Homo sapiens: one gene and its partner. The protein of the gene in region 2 interacts with the protein of the main gene of each other region in a biochemical or structural test. Each region holds a gene or a part of one and is shown on either strand. Other genes may lie near its edges.

What was found. The genes of interacting proteins can lie anywhere in the genome.
Region 1: the proteins of TENT5C (region 2) and FNDC3A form a complex in vitro, tested with the Homo sapiens proteins (one study listed by BioGRID).

Annotation. Positions count from the first base shown.
Region 1 is NC_000013.11:48,971,811-48,978,911, reverse strand, and holds the start of FNDC3A (fibronectin type-III domain-containing protein 3A), read right to left. Parts: upstream 3,001-7,101; 5' UTR 2,735-3,000; intron 2,251-2,734; exon of another isoform or gene 1,995-2,250; intron 1-1,994. UniProt on the Homo sapiens protein: Mediates spermatid-Sertoli adhesion during spermatogenesis.
Region 2 is NC_000001.11:117,601,108-117,609,057, reverse strand, and holds the start of TENT5C (terminal nucleotidyltransferase 5C), read right to left. Parts: upstream 3,011-7,950; 5' UTR 2,905-3,010; intron 1-2,904. UniProt on the Homo sapiens protein: Catalyzes the transfer of one adenosine molecule from an ATP to an mRNA poly(A) tail bearing a 3'-OH terminal group and enhances mRNA stability and gene expression.

The DNA of each region.
Region 1 (7,101 bases), on a different chromosome or scaffold from region 2:
GCTCACAATACATGTAAAAGTACAAAATTTGCCTTTCAACATTAATGGCCACTAATTTCGTTTTAACAAGTAGTTTTTGACATTCACACATATGGGAGCCATATTTCTTGTTTTGCAATGTGATAAACTGAAGCAGTAAAAGGCTCAATGGAATAAATATGCACCATATTCTAAACCTTCGGAATTACAATATTGTGAGTTTATTTGAAGTCCGCTAGGCAATGCTAAAAACAAAACAAAAAAAACAAAAGCAAACAAAAAAAAACCAGAAACACTAATCACTTAGTTATCTGGCTAATAAAATTGGAAATCATGTGCATATCCCTACACCATTCTCAAAGACACGATCTAGATTCATTTTCATTCAAAAATGCACCAACAATGTTTCAAAAAAAAAACGTTTTTGGTTACTTCATCAAATTGTATTTTAAAAATACTGGCAGATTATAAAATACACAAGCCTTGGATGTCATGAACATCTTAAAAAATGCAAATGTTTTAAAACAGCGCAAATATTACTAAAAATTGATAAAGTATAAATTAAATGCTCTTTGCCTAAAACTACAAAAGACAATGAGAATATGAATCATGCATTCCCTCTTTTTTTCGGGGGGTTAAGGATGTCTCAGCCCTTAGCTATGTCTGGCTGGTCAGGGAAGAGGGAGAAATTTTTAAATTAGTAATAAAATATGCTTACTATTATATTGTAGAAATGTGACTAGTAAAGAGTAATCATTACATGTGTGTTAAAATAAATCAGGTCTCAATTACTCACACAGATAGAGGAAGTGAAGACACAGACGTCACCAAAAGAAGATAATCCTAGAATGTTTTTTTTAATGCTTATTATTAATTTGGGATAAATTAATTACCCTTATAACTATGCTTGACAGTGTTAACCAGGATTTTATTTTTCCGGAGCATTCAATGATTTGGAGGATTCAGACAAAAGGGAAAAAGAGGGAGTTAATTCAGAAGCATACAGGTGGCTAACGGTAGCCAGCCTGGGATAAAAAATTTTCCAGTTAACCTACACATAGAAAACTAACAGATGATCTATGAAATGAAACAAGACAATATAGTAAAATTTAATGTAGTAGTGCTAAAAAATTTAAATATAAGATTTAATATTAAAATTTTAACAAGATGTTTCTCCTGTCATCATCCCTTCTTCCCACTAACTGGTGTGATTAGAAAGCAAGATTAGTAGGCTACAAAGCTAAAAGCAACATTTCAGGTTATATTTCATAAAAGATGTGGTAAAAATCCTTCATCACTGTTTTCTGTTGGGCCACCATCTGTCTCAGTGAGTACTTCATCTCATTACTTAAGAAAAATTAATTCAACCAAGAAAATATCCAAAAGACAGGGGATTCAACTCACTTGAACATTTGTGGGTGACACAAGATGACAAGAGTTAGTAAATACGCAAAAACTAAATATTTATCCAAACATAAGATCAGAACCACAAAACTCAATTCGTTTCTGCCTAACATATGGCTCAAACTCCTGAGTGGCGTATGTTTAGTACTGGAGCTGGTAACAGCATGGTGATAAAATATTATAGTAAGAGTTCAACTGTTATTTCATTCCTACAATACAGAAGCATACACACTTTGGTTTCAAGAACTAAAAAACACAGACCACAGTAAGAAGCAAAATAATTACGTTGTTCGGTTTTAAAAACCCATAGTGAACACATAATGATTATACCGCAAAAAGAAAAAAAAAATCTCATCAGCCTGCGACTCTTATTTAATAGATGGTCAGACACAAAGGTGTCCAAAGGAACTTACGTAAAATCTCACAAAAGAAAATCTCGAATTCACAATCTCTAGCACCCCCAGCAAATCATCGCATTCCACCCTCTAAAATATCCCAAGGCTTGTAACGCTAACAGTTGAATAAAAGAACAATTAACGACCACATCCATTAAAACAGTCCCTCTTCTGCTCGCAATCTGACAGCGAAATTATCTGTTCATTTTCCTTTACCTAACACATGACGTCGTTTCCAAAGCCGTGTCAAAAGTTCGAAGATCCAGGTTGTTAAAACCGGGCGAGGACTGCAGCCTCGAGTCCACCTCCCGACTGAACAGGTGGTTAACTCGCCCGGGGAGAGGAACTGCCAGGTACTGGAAGCAGCCACGCAGGATCAAACAGAGGGCGGGTTTTCGAGGTTTTAACCCCAAGATGAGCGGGGAAAACTCTCTTCAGAAAAGCGTTCAAGTTCGGCGGCTGCCGGGCGGCCAAAGCCGAAGGCGCCGCGGGTGCTGGGCGATCCTCTCAGGAGGATTCCGCCCCAGCCCCCGCCCCCGCCCCCGCCCCCGAGCCCTCCGGAGCTACGCGGCTCGCCGCGGGGAGGAGGCGGGGGACAGAGAGAAGGGCCGCCCGCGCACCAGCGCCACCTCCCTCGGGCTAGATGCCGCCTCCTCTTGGGCTGGATGGCGCCCCCGGCCGCGCCCCCGCAAGCGTGTCCTGGCTAGGCTCGGCCCCGGCAGGTGCCCGACTAGTAGACCGGTCCTGTCCCCGGCCCCACTGCCCCTCTGCACCTCTGCCCACAGCGCGCCCACAGAAGGGGGTGGTCCGCGCCCCTCGACGGGGCCGAGCCCTGGAGAGTGCCCCGGCCCTCAGTCCCAGCCTAACGGTTTCCGCGGCGCCTCCTCCGGGGCGGGACGGGGTTGGGACGGCTCGGTGTCCCCCGCCTTTCGCGGAGGGAGTGCCCGCGCTCTCACCTCCGAGTCACGCCGTTCTGAGGCAGAAGGCGGCTCCTCTGGCGCCTCTTCTTAGGGTTCCTGATCGTTGTCTCTCTACCTCAGCTGCAGAGTCAGCTCTCAGGGCCGCCGCGGCCGCCGGCGCGCTGACTGTTGGGGTTGTTTCCTGGCAGTGACGCCGCCGCCTCAGCCCCGCTCTTCGCTCCCTCTCCGCGTAGCTCCCGCTTTCTGTTTCACCCGAGGGACCACGAACGCCGCCGCCGCCATGCTTACTACGGAGCCGGGAGGAGGAGCCCGAAGTCGGCGCGCCGAGTGCGGCTGCGCGGGCCCCGCCGACGGAGCCCGCGGCCGGGACCCCGAACCCCCGCCTCGAGCCCGCCGCGCCGGGGCTCTCTCACCGGAACGCGAGTCCCCGCGGGGCCACCGGCGCGTGGCGGCTGAGCGGCCGCGTTTGGCTCCCGGAGCGCCCACACCCTCTCGGGCTTCCGGCTTTCTCCCGAGGCCCGGCTGCGCCTGGCTTGTGGTAGCATCCGCTGTGGCCAGGCTCGGAGCTACACTCAGGAAAAGTGGAGTTAATGGAGGTTCCTAGAGACACTCACACAATTCTCAATCCACATTTCAAAAGGCTCCCCTGAGACGCACCCTGTCGGCCCCTTTCCGAAAGCACGCGAACTTAAGGCTGGCAGGTGCTTTAAAAGACACTCCTCCCAAGGACTAGGAAGCCTCTGAAATGGGCTTGGAAGTTTCTAATCCCAAAGACTTCGAACCCAGGATCTGGATAGCAAGCAAAAATATTTAGATATTTACTCAGTTGAAAACGTGGGGGGTGGCTTCGTGGTCTCTTCGCCAGCCAAATCGCGTGGAAAACCACGACCTCAATTTTTACAACAGCACGAAGACTTACAAGTGAGCGTAGCAGCGACTTCCTGGAACCTCAAACAATGTGGGACGCTGCAATAATGCCTGAGGGCTTTTGACTTACAGTTGCCGCCGGAGACCTGGGGAGGGGGTAGTACTTGGGCCGGTGAGTCCAGCCTCAGGAACTGTCCTTTCAAAAATGGTGATGGATGTAACAAGTTGCATGTCTGGGCTTTATTTCAGTGTATTAATTGTGCGATCTTTTAAAATAGCTGTATTTTTAAAACTGTTTTACAGAAATCTCTTTAAAATGTGATTATTCTCTATATTCTTAAAGAATACAATGGCTAATTAAATCCTTTGTTGATAACTGACTCTCAAACCGATATCTTGGCCATACGTTTAAGTCCCAGAGGATTGCTGCGGTGTATAGAATCCCTACTTTGGTGCTCTCTTTTTTTCCCTCTTTGGAATGTTCTCATCACCTCTTCTAAAATCCTTCACTGCTTTTCATCTCCTCATCTGCCTCTATCCACTCTGATCCTTCCTCTTATTCTTTCTGCTTTACTGTTTATTTTTCATTCTTCTCTCCTTTCTCGGCTGGTTTTCTCTGCGGCTCCAGGTGAAGATTGATGGGATGTTTATGTCCACAGCCAGCTAATGAGAGGTTTCTTTTCTTCTGGTTGTAAATAGGGCAGTGGTATCTTGAGATATTTTCATTGCTCTTCACTATCAGAAGTTCTTTCCCTGTGAGAGATGTTTCCTTTTCTTAACTTTTGGATTTGGCCCTCTTCGAGACAGCTGGCAAGTTGATCTTGGAATAATTGAAGTATAACTGTATATTGTTTCAAAGTATGAGGATTTTATCAGAGTGTGGGCGAATGGGGTGGCTTCCCCATCTTACTGCCCAACTATGCTTGGTCTGAGACTAAGATAGTGGTTTCCAAACTTACCGCTAAGCTAATACTTTCCTACTCTGCTTCCTACTCAGGAGCTTTTTGAAAATACAGAATCCTGCAATCTACCCCCTCAAGATTCTGATTCCTTTGTCCAGGGAGAGGCCAAGACATGGCACTTTTAAAAACTATATTTAAAAAAATATGTTTGGGACATGCCTACATGTAAAGGCAGAGTAAAGAAGATCAGCTGTTTTTGAAGGAGATTAACACATAATTTAAGAATGTTATTGAAGACCTAGAGATTGTAGTCAATAATATGCAATGCAGTAAGGTGAAGTAAAGTGAAGACCAAGGAATTTATGGCCTTTGGAGAGAAGAAAACCCACACATAAATGACCCTAGCATGTGCACCAGTATGAGTTCTCTGGGAACAGAGAGAGGGTCAAGAAATTATGTTGGCTTTGAACAAGTTCTCTTCTCAATGCTTCACTTTTTTTTTATCAATAAAATGGGAGCCATTTTCAATCCTCATCTTTCTTGGCCTCTCAACAATACTCAACACTTTGACCACTATTCTTTCTTAAACATTTCTTCTTCCTTTGACACTGCATTTTCTTGGTTTTCCTCCTTAGTTTCCTAGGCACTGCTTCTCTGATTCCTTTGCATATTCCTGCTGGTCTCCCTAACTATTAAATATAACAGTACCTTAAAATTCAGTTTTAGATTCTTTTCTGTTTTCATTGTAATCTCTTGGCCTAAGCAGCATCACCCACGCCAATGGCTTTAGTTATCATCTATATGCCAGTGATCTCCACATATATGCCTCCAGCCCAGACCTTTCCTCTAAATTCCAAATCTGATCCACTAGTCAAAGTTTGACCCTACCTCTAAATTCCAAGCTTCACTGACATGGCCACTTAATATCTCAAAGTTGCAAAGTTTAGTCCAACTGAGTTCATGAACACTTGTTTTCCTTATCCCCCATCTCTCTAGTTATTCAAATCAAATATCTAGTAGTCAGTAACCGCTGATGTCTCCCTCACCTCCATTCTTCCATTCTCCATATTTGTTGCAGCACTAACTCCTGGCAATTTTATTTCTAAAATCTAATTGGTCTACTTCTTTCCAATCACCACCAATCTAATTCGATCTCACTGTATACAATCTGGGATCCTCCATTCAGTCTCCATTTTGCAGCCAAAATTATCCTCTAAGAAAGCAAATGAGACTATGTCACTACTCCAAAAATCTCCTTAAACAGTTTCTCATTGCTTTAGGATAAGTCTAGAATTCTTAAGGCAGCCTAAAAGACCATACGAGGTCTGGCCTTACCTGCCTTTTCCAGCCTCATCTCACACCATTTTCACCTTGTTTCCTGGGCAGACTTCCTGGTCTTCTTTTAGTTTCTCAAAAATGCTATGATCCCAACAACCAAAGGCTCTATGTACATGCCATTCTCTCCTTTAGTTATCCTATCTCTTACTCATCCTTCAGGTCTCAGCTTGAAAGCGACATCCTTGGGAAAAACATTTCTGACCTCCCAGATACATTCAAGATACCTTGTTATGTCAGCTCTCTTACCACCATATACCCTCCCCTCTTATGACTTACCACAGCTTGTAACTACATTTTGGTATGTGTAACTACTAGGTTAATGTCTGTTGCTCCCCACATTAGGATAAAGACCATGTCTATTTGGGCCTGCACAGTGCCTGGCACATAGAAGCTACCCAATAAATATTTCTTGAATGATTATTGTCCTATGAGTTTATTTCTGGGATTCTAGAAGGTTGTTAGATCGGGAAATTAGATCACTGATCATTTTCAAGAGAGCAATCTTCTGTATGACTAGTGGGAAGAAATGCAGAAATGTGCTGGAAGACAATTCTCTGTGGGACTCTAGTATTTCTGCATGTCTTGTGAGCAGAGGCACTAACAGCTTTTGTTTTAGACTATATTTTCAAGGATTTTTTTTTTTTTTTGGTCAAACTGCCTTGGAAAATATACATAGTGTCCCCTGCCCTGCTCCCCCTCCCCGCCAAGAGCAGGGGCACATTTGTTTACCATCCAATATAGTGAAGATAATGTCTTTGGAGGTAAAGGTCAAGCAGGTTTTCTTGCAGCCTATTATAAAAAGATTGGGGATTTCCTAAGCTTAGATAGAGTTTCTCAGCTGTGAGGCAAACCCACTGCAGGTGCATCACTCACCTGAACCACACCATGTAGCTCCAGGTAAGACCTGGGGGCAAGGGAACTGACTGAACATGACACTGGCGCTGCTTGCTGTGCCATGAGTAATACAGCCCTTTGACTGCAAAGCCCCACGTCTTCTGCCAGCTTCCATGAAACTATAGCAGGTTAAGTGATTAGCTTGCAAGGAGGATGAAATCTCAGACCTTTCATAGTTCTTGACAAAGTACAGTGGGTTAAAGAGAAAGACGAAGATGAAGAAGTCAAACAGCAAGTGGAGACTATTTAGAAAGTTTGGAAAAAAAAGTTTGGTGATGAAGAGGAGAGATGGGACAGCAGATTGAGGTGGGAGGGGTGTGCTGACTGAATTCTCTGAACAATATTGGTGGCCTTAACTCTGAACAGATCCCGACAGAACACTATTGCTGTTGTTCCTCTCTT
Region 2 (7,950 bases):
TATAGTCAAAACACCAAGATGGCAGGAAGCATTTTCCTACAGTGCCTTGTTTACCTCAATGACAACACAAAAAGCAACAGACCTTATCTAACCCAAGTAATGTTTTATTCCAAGTAACCTCACATTCCACATTACTCCTTAACTCCTAAACACACACACATGCACACAAAATAGCAGATACACCCAGAGACAGGTGTGAAACCAAGAAACCCCAAAACATAAGTTTAGCTTAACTCATGAAACTAGTTTTGGGCTTCCACGACTTCTCTCAGTAATGCAAAAAAAAAAAAAAAAGGTTCAACTCATCCACTGAGAGCCTTTGGGTTTCCATTTCTTTAGTAGGTAACTCCATGAACACAACATTGATCAGAGACAAAAGATGAAGACAAGGTCCTATGTACTTGAGCAGTAAAAACAACAAAAAAAGTTTTTTAAATGAAGTTTTTAAATTTTCTATCAAATGTGTCTGGTTAATGGTACTGTGAAAACAAGAGCACTACAGCCCACTTTTAAGTTATTTTTACTGCTGCACTGTTCCTTGGACTTTCAGAAATATGAGGAATTCTGTTCTCTGACCGGCAGCGCAAGATGTGCATGATCTGCCCTGGCCTTGAACACGGGGGAATGTGGGCTGAATGTGTGCACTATGGGGAGATACAGCTGAGGGGGGACGGGCCTCTGGAACTCGGGAGATTTCAGTGGCTACTTGTGCTCACGGTACAAGAGAAGAAACCAGGTAGAGATAGCCACAGGTGCACAACTAAGTCATGCTCACTCTGACAAGCAGGCTAAGAGCCAAATCCTTTCCTTCAGAATTACATGAATTTAATCCCTGGATACAAGGTAGGTATTGTGGAAAAAACAGCGTAAGAAATATGGCTGTTAATTCTATGTGCTCACTGAAGCTGCTTATGAAATTAGGGATCTTTGTTTTGGTAACAATTTAGAGGCCTCCTGGCAGAGTTTTTTTTTTTTTTTAAACTTTGTTATGGGAGCCCCCTACCCCCGCATAGCTACCTGAACAATTATATACAATATACCAAAATCTTCCTAAAAACTCTTTATTGAGAATATATGTACTCTAAAGCTATGGGTATACCTTAAGAGAAAAAGTTCATTATCTGAAATAAACTAAGCTTGACTCCAGAGATCATTTTCCATCTTCACAAACAAGAATGTCAAAGGACAGAACCCCTGCAGCCCAGCTCAGAGGTTTCCCTAAAAGCCCAGAGAAAAGTCAGCATTCTTTACTCCCCATCCCCCTCCCCCTTTTCCACTGCAGGGCCTAACGTGGCTGGTCTCACACCCTCAATAATACCCTTGGGGATTTAAGACAGTAAAATTCTGGGTAAGCTCTCCTACCACTCTTGCGGCTGCCCAACTTACTTCCTGGGCTCATTTCCTTGCCAATTTACTCACGTTGAAAGGTTGCTGTCGCCAACAACGGTCACCCTCTTTCCTGCACGCAGAGGGCAGCTGAGCCAGCCAGAAGTGTACTTTGGGAGGATCTAATCACCCTAACTTTATTTCCTGGGCTGGTTCAGTCTCCTAACCCACCTACAAAGTAACCTGAAGACCAAGTTGTCACAATACAAATAATTATGCACATAGTATTTATAAAAGCTTTCTTACTATAAGTGCATTTTAAGCACTTCATTTGTATGCACTTTATATCTCCGTAAGAAAGCAAAAATGTTAAAAAGGAAGCAGGCCCCTACTTAATTAAGCCAGGGAACTGGTTAGAGCCCTACAAAAGCCTACCTATGGACAAAAAAGGGCGAAGGGGAAGGGAGCTGACACTATCCCTCCCGCAGGGTCCAGCCCTAATAGTGGGTTCTCCAGAAGCTCGCCAGGCATTCATTTCTCCAGGGGAGCGCCCTTACTTGGAGGTAGCGCTGCTTGGTTTTCTCGCCCGCCAGCGTTGAGTTCAGGTGTGCAGGCTACCAACCTGTATTCTTCAGGTAAGTCACCCTCCTCTGACTCGCCTCCCACCCTGCTCCCTCCTGCCTCGCGACCAGTGCGAAGGGAGTCCCCGAACTGCGACACCTCCCGGGGCAGCCGCACCGGTATCCGTCCGAGTCGACCCACTTGCCGTGGCTTTTCACCTACGCAGTAAAGCAAGTTTCATTTTCAAAAGGAGAGGAAGCAGGTTTCACAGACACCGCATTCCCAAGAAGTTTCTGAGAGACGCGCAGCGCACAAGTCACTGGCTTGGATCCCTTTGCTGCTCATGGTGTCCACAGTCTGATGTGAGCGCATTAAATTTAAGGATCTCCGCCCTTCTCCTTAAAACTCAGGACTTGGCAATGAGCCTAGGAAGCGCCCCTCCCCTCCCCAACCAGATCCAAGCCCCGGACCGCTGCGTCTCCAGCTGCGCCTAGTGAAACCGCCGAATTCGAATTCACACTCGGCGGGCCGGCGAAGGTGTGCGCGCCCGCGGGAGCGCCGGGGCGAGCCCGAGGGACTGCAAGCCAGGAAGGGAGGCATGGGTGGCGGGGGGCGCCGTCTGATCCAGGTAGGAGCGGAGGCGCCGATCACACACTCTTCAGACGCCCTGCCCGCGCCTGGCCAGCGCGCAGCCTGCAGGACGCGCGGAGCAGGAACTCGCTGGAGTTTGCCAAGCCCCAGGTCTCTGGAAAGTTGTAGCTCCCTTTCGGAGCGTCTCTTCTGGCCCTTTGGGACGGGTGTGTCAGGGGCGGGGGTCCTCGAGGGAGCAGGAGGGGAAAGGAGCACCGGGTCTCGGCACCTGTCCGCAGCTCCCCTCGGGTCCGCCTGCCCCCTACCAGGCTGGGCAAAGACCTGAGCACCACTTAGTGGGGGCGGACCCCCACTAAGTGAGCTCGCGGCTCCCTGGGGCTGCTGCCGCATCGCCGCACCTTTAGAGGAGGGGGGTCGCGGACTCACCTGGGCAATAGAAGAGGAGGCGACAGAGGCAGGTCCTTGGCGTGGGCAGGCCCCAGCAGGAGCGGCGCGACCTCTACAGCCCCTAGGCAGCGGCACCGAGTGAGCCGTCCCGCCGCCGCCCCCTCCGTTCTTATACGGCGGGACCACGCCCCCGTCCCCGCCCCTGAGCCGCCCTCCCGGGGGAGCCAGGGGCGGGGCGTGGCGGAGCCAGTCCCCTCGGGACCCTTCCGCCCGGCCCTGACGGCAGGGGCGGGGCGAGGGCTGCCCTCTGATTGGCTCTTCGGGTGAATGGTTGCCAAGAGACGAGTAAATCCTCAGCGGCGGGAAGGGGCGGGGTGCTCAGGGAGGCAGCACTGCGCAAGCGCAATAGAGGGGGCTGCGTCGACACCCACTTAACTTCGGAGTTAGTGGGACACCTTTCTTTTTGCTTAGTACGCTTTTCTGCTATTCCTGCCGCATAACTCTCTCTTCCCCAGGCTTTTCCCATCTCCATCCTATTCTCTCGCAGGCAGGTTTTTCTTCCGCCTCTCTGGGGATTTTCGCGTTGGTTCTCCCTGCCCCCAGGAGTGAGGCGGGTAACGCCCACGCCTACCTCCGGTGTGTGTTTTTGAAGTCGGAAAAAACTTAATGGTTTCTGGGCCCTGGGCACCTTTCTGATTCCCCAAGCAAACTGGCTGGAGGCGAAGGCGTGGTCTTCGGGGAGAGAGCGCCGGCGGCTCTCTGGCCCCGGGGACCACCTGTGTGCAGTTAGTGGGACGAAGGGCCTCGGGGAGTCCATCGCCAATGTCGGCAGCCGCAGCCGCTTCGGCCCCATTCGGAATGCCACAGCACTTGGTCCAGTGTGTTATATAACATGCAGGCAGGGCTTGGACACCATCCATTCATAACATAGCGAGTGGTTTACAGCCCAGGTTCTGAATTCAGACTAATCTGAGTTGAGATCTCCATGCACCACTTAAACTTTCTGTAAGGCCTTAGGCAAGTAACTGAACCAACCCTCCAACAACCTGCGTCTCCTATCTGTAGGACAAGACTAACAATGGGACAGCTCTGTAGAATTATATAAGTATTAAGAAAATACGTGGGAAACAATTAGTGCATTGCCTAGTGCCTGTTAGAAAGTGTGTGGCAAATGCTGTATGTATCAGATAGTAGCCAATGTTGGACAATGTTATTTATCAATAGACATTATTGTACTTGTATTGATCGTTTACTAGGTGCTGGGGGAAAAGATTACTTCCCAGATGCAGTATTTACATCTCCTCCGCCCTACTCTTCCAACCCTGCCTGAAATAAGTGTGGTTCTCCTGTCTGTCAGACTATGAAGAGTTCTCAAATATGTCTTTCCCAGCGAGGGAGAGGAGAGTGAGTATCCAGGAACTTTAATGCGATAGGACATCAATATGAGTGTTTATAGGGAAAGCCAGTGATCCTATTGTTAGACGCGAAATCAAGACATATGATCTGATTTTTTGTTTTACTTTTTGTTTTTGAGGTATAACATTCAGTAAAGCGCACAAATCAAAAGTGTCCAGAATGATAATTTTTTACATATGCATACCCATGTAACTGCCATCCATATCAAGATGTGGAACCTTTCCAGCTCATTCATGCCCCTTCCCATTCAGTATCCGACAAGGATTACCACTATTTTAACCTCTATCACCATAGATTAGTTTTACCAATATTTGAACTTGCTATGGATGAAATACATAACACGTACAATTTTATGTCTGGCTTCTCTTGCCCAACAGTGCGTCTATGAGATTCATCCATATTGTTGTGTGTAACAATGGTCCATTCTTTTTCACTACTGTGTATTACTTCATTATATAAATATTCAACGATTTGTGTACTCATCCTACTGTTGGTGGACATTTGAGTTGCTTCATGTTTCTGCCTTTGATGAAGCTGCTGCAGACATTCTTACACATGTCTTTTGGTGGACATAGCATTCATTTATGTTGGATATATATATATACCTAGGATTGGATTCCTGGTTCATAGAGTGTTCACATATTAAACTTTAAATACACTGCCAGTTTTTAAATTCGTATAACAATTTAGGTTCCAACCAGTGATATGAGATTTCCGGTTGTTTCACATCTTTGCCAGTATTGGTATTTTCAGTCTTTTTAATTTAAAAAGGGGGGGGATATGTATTTCATTGTGATTTAAAATTGCATTTTTTGATGATCAAGGATGTTGAGCAATTTTTCAGATGCTTATTGTTCATTTCAATACCCTTTTAATAAAGTGTCTGTTCAAGTCTTTCGCTCATTTGTAGGGAGTTGTCTGTCCTAATGACCTATAAGAGTTCTTTACATATTCTGAATATGAGCCCTTTGTCCAATATATGTATAACAAATATCTTTTCCCAATCTGTGTTGACTTTTAATTATTCTAATGTTATCTTTTGATGAACAGAAGCACTTAATTTTAAAGACATTCAAAATATTAATCTTATCTCTTATGACTAGTGTTTTGTATGTCCTGTTTAAAATAATCCTAAGCCCATAAAAATAATATTCTTTGTTTTCTTCTAAGAACTTCATTGTTTTAACTTTCACTATCTGTAATAAGGCCTTGGGCAAGTAACTCAACCATCCTTCCATAAACTTCCAACCACAATAAAGTTAATGCAAATTATTACATTGGCCTTTCAACCATTTCTACTCTTTCAGTGCCTCTTGGAAACCATTAGTACAGTTAGTCTCAAGGTAGAACACAGGACAGAAATTCTTAACCTAAAATTTGACCCAGCATGGTTTAGTTCCACCTTTTCCTGGGTGAAATTTTATTCAACTTCCTGAATAAAATTAGGCAATTCTATGGTAGGTGAGAGGTGAGAGCTAAGAGCAGAAAAGAAACTCACTATATATGAGTTTCTCAAATATATATACATGTATATATATATTTTTTTCTTGGGCCCCTTTGTATTCCTGATGCATTAATGGACTTTTCTAGAATTGTGTTTCAGGGTTGTTTTTTTTTTTTTTTTTTTAAATACACTGTGTTCTTTCTGCCTCATAAAACTGGCATCCTGGAGCTGGCAGGAGTCTTAGAAAGTGGCCAAGTTCTGCCCGTTGGACACGGAACCAGATATTCAAACTCTTCTTCCTAGATTATTGGTGCCTTCTTCTTGCCAAATTCCAGCCCCTGCTGAGCACATCCAATCAGAATGGTTTAAAGACCTTCTTTGCATTCTGAATGATTCACTGGATTCACTGATTTATACCTAGGGAAACCGAGGGACAAAACAGTCTTTAAAATGCAAGCGTACCTCACTTGTAGTGATGATCCTGAAAGAGTTTTACGTCTCAATAGATTCTGATTTTAATACTTCAGAAAAACAAAGAAATTCCACCATAGTCCTACTGTAAGTCAAGAAAGACCTTTTGTATAGTGTCTAGTTATCTCCTGATCTATCAGTTTCTTTGAGCAATTTCTTAAGTCTTGAGTTTTTTGTAATAAAAACATTACAAATGTTTATTCAAATGCCCCCATCTAAATATTTTATTTTTCTTAAAATGATTTTTATGTGAAGTTCTTGTCCACATTTAACATACATGTAGAGAAGTACACAGCTCATAAGAGCACAGCTCAATGAATTTTCACAAACGGAATGAACCTGTGTTGCTAGCATACAGATCAAGAAACAAAGGAACATCAAAGCATTTGTGGACATATTTTATTTTATTTATTTTTTTTTATTTTTTTATTTTATTTGGTCTTTTTTCATGATATGTGTATCAGCAGTTCTTTCTTTTTTTATATATACTTGAAGTTTTAGGGTACATGTGCACAACGTGCAGGTTAGTTACATATTTTAAAACCATCACAGTGGCATTGTGTACATCCTAGTGAGTTTCTGGTGGGGCAAAGACATGACTTGGCTTTTCAATTCCCACCTACAACTCTCACCAGTAAATCTCTCTCTCCTCTCTGGCTCCTGCAGCCCAATATTTTTCTCGGGTGTTGCAGAAAGAGACCTGGGTTTGGAATAAAATGGTGTAAGTTTTATTTGGAGCAAAGTCCAGAAGTAATGGAACCTAGAGCTGGTCATATTTGGTGGGACAGGAAGAGAGGAAGGGGCTGCATCTTCAGGCATGGCTGTAGCAGCAGGCTCAAGTACAGCATGGCAGCAGAGGCACTGCCACCAGAGCAGCATGAAGGGGTAAAGTAGGGATCCAGAAGGGGGATGGTGGTGACAGTGGCAGTGCCAGGGAAAAGACGATGCCAAATATAAGCAGTGCTGACTTTATCCCTCCAATCTAGGTGTCTCTAAACTCCTTTCCTGCCCACCCCACTAGCAGTATGTCCCTGGAGAAAGGATGTAGGCTTGAGTCAGATGGCAGGCAATCCTTTTTTCAGGCAAGGTGAAACCTTAGACAAATGGCTTAACATCTCTGAGTCTGAGCTTCCTAATCCAAAAAATGGAAATGCTAACAGCAATTAGCCTACCTGCTTCATGGGGTTGTATGCTGATCAAATGAAGTAATGATACATATGAAAGCAGTCACCCCATTCACAAGATGTGTCTCGTTGCCAACCTCGTACCCCTTTCTCATTTCACTGTCAGGACACCTTGGGAAGCAAGTCAGATGAGAACAGAAAAGGGTAGATTCTGAATACCTTGCTGTGGCTACCATCACTTCTAGAGCCCCAGATTTCTTATCTAAGGATTAACATTTTTTCAAATCTCCCTTCTGGGAAAAGGGATTTCATAAAAATGCAAATTGTGAATGGATTATTTCATTATATCTCATGACCAACCACTGGGTCCACTCTGAGCTTGCCTTATATTTAGGCCCAGGATGTCTTTCCTACCATCCTGCCAGAATGCCTGAAGCTCCCAGCACTGGAGTCCATTCCTGTTGGGGAAGAGATTCTGGTCATTCCCACATAGCTTGCCAGAGGAAGAATACGGCCGACTGCCAGGGATGGCGAACTCCCCTAACACGTGTCATTCTCAGTGTTCAGACATTGGTCTTCCAGTCCTCATATCAGTCTTGATTCTTAGTTGTAAGCACTCAAAAATGACTC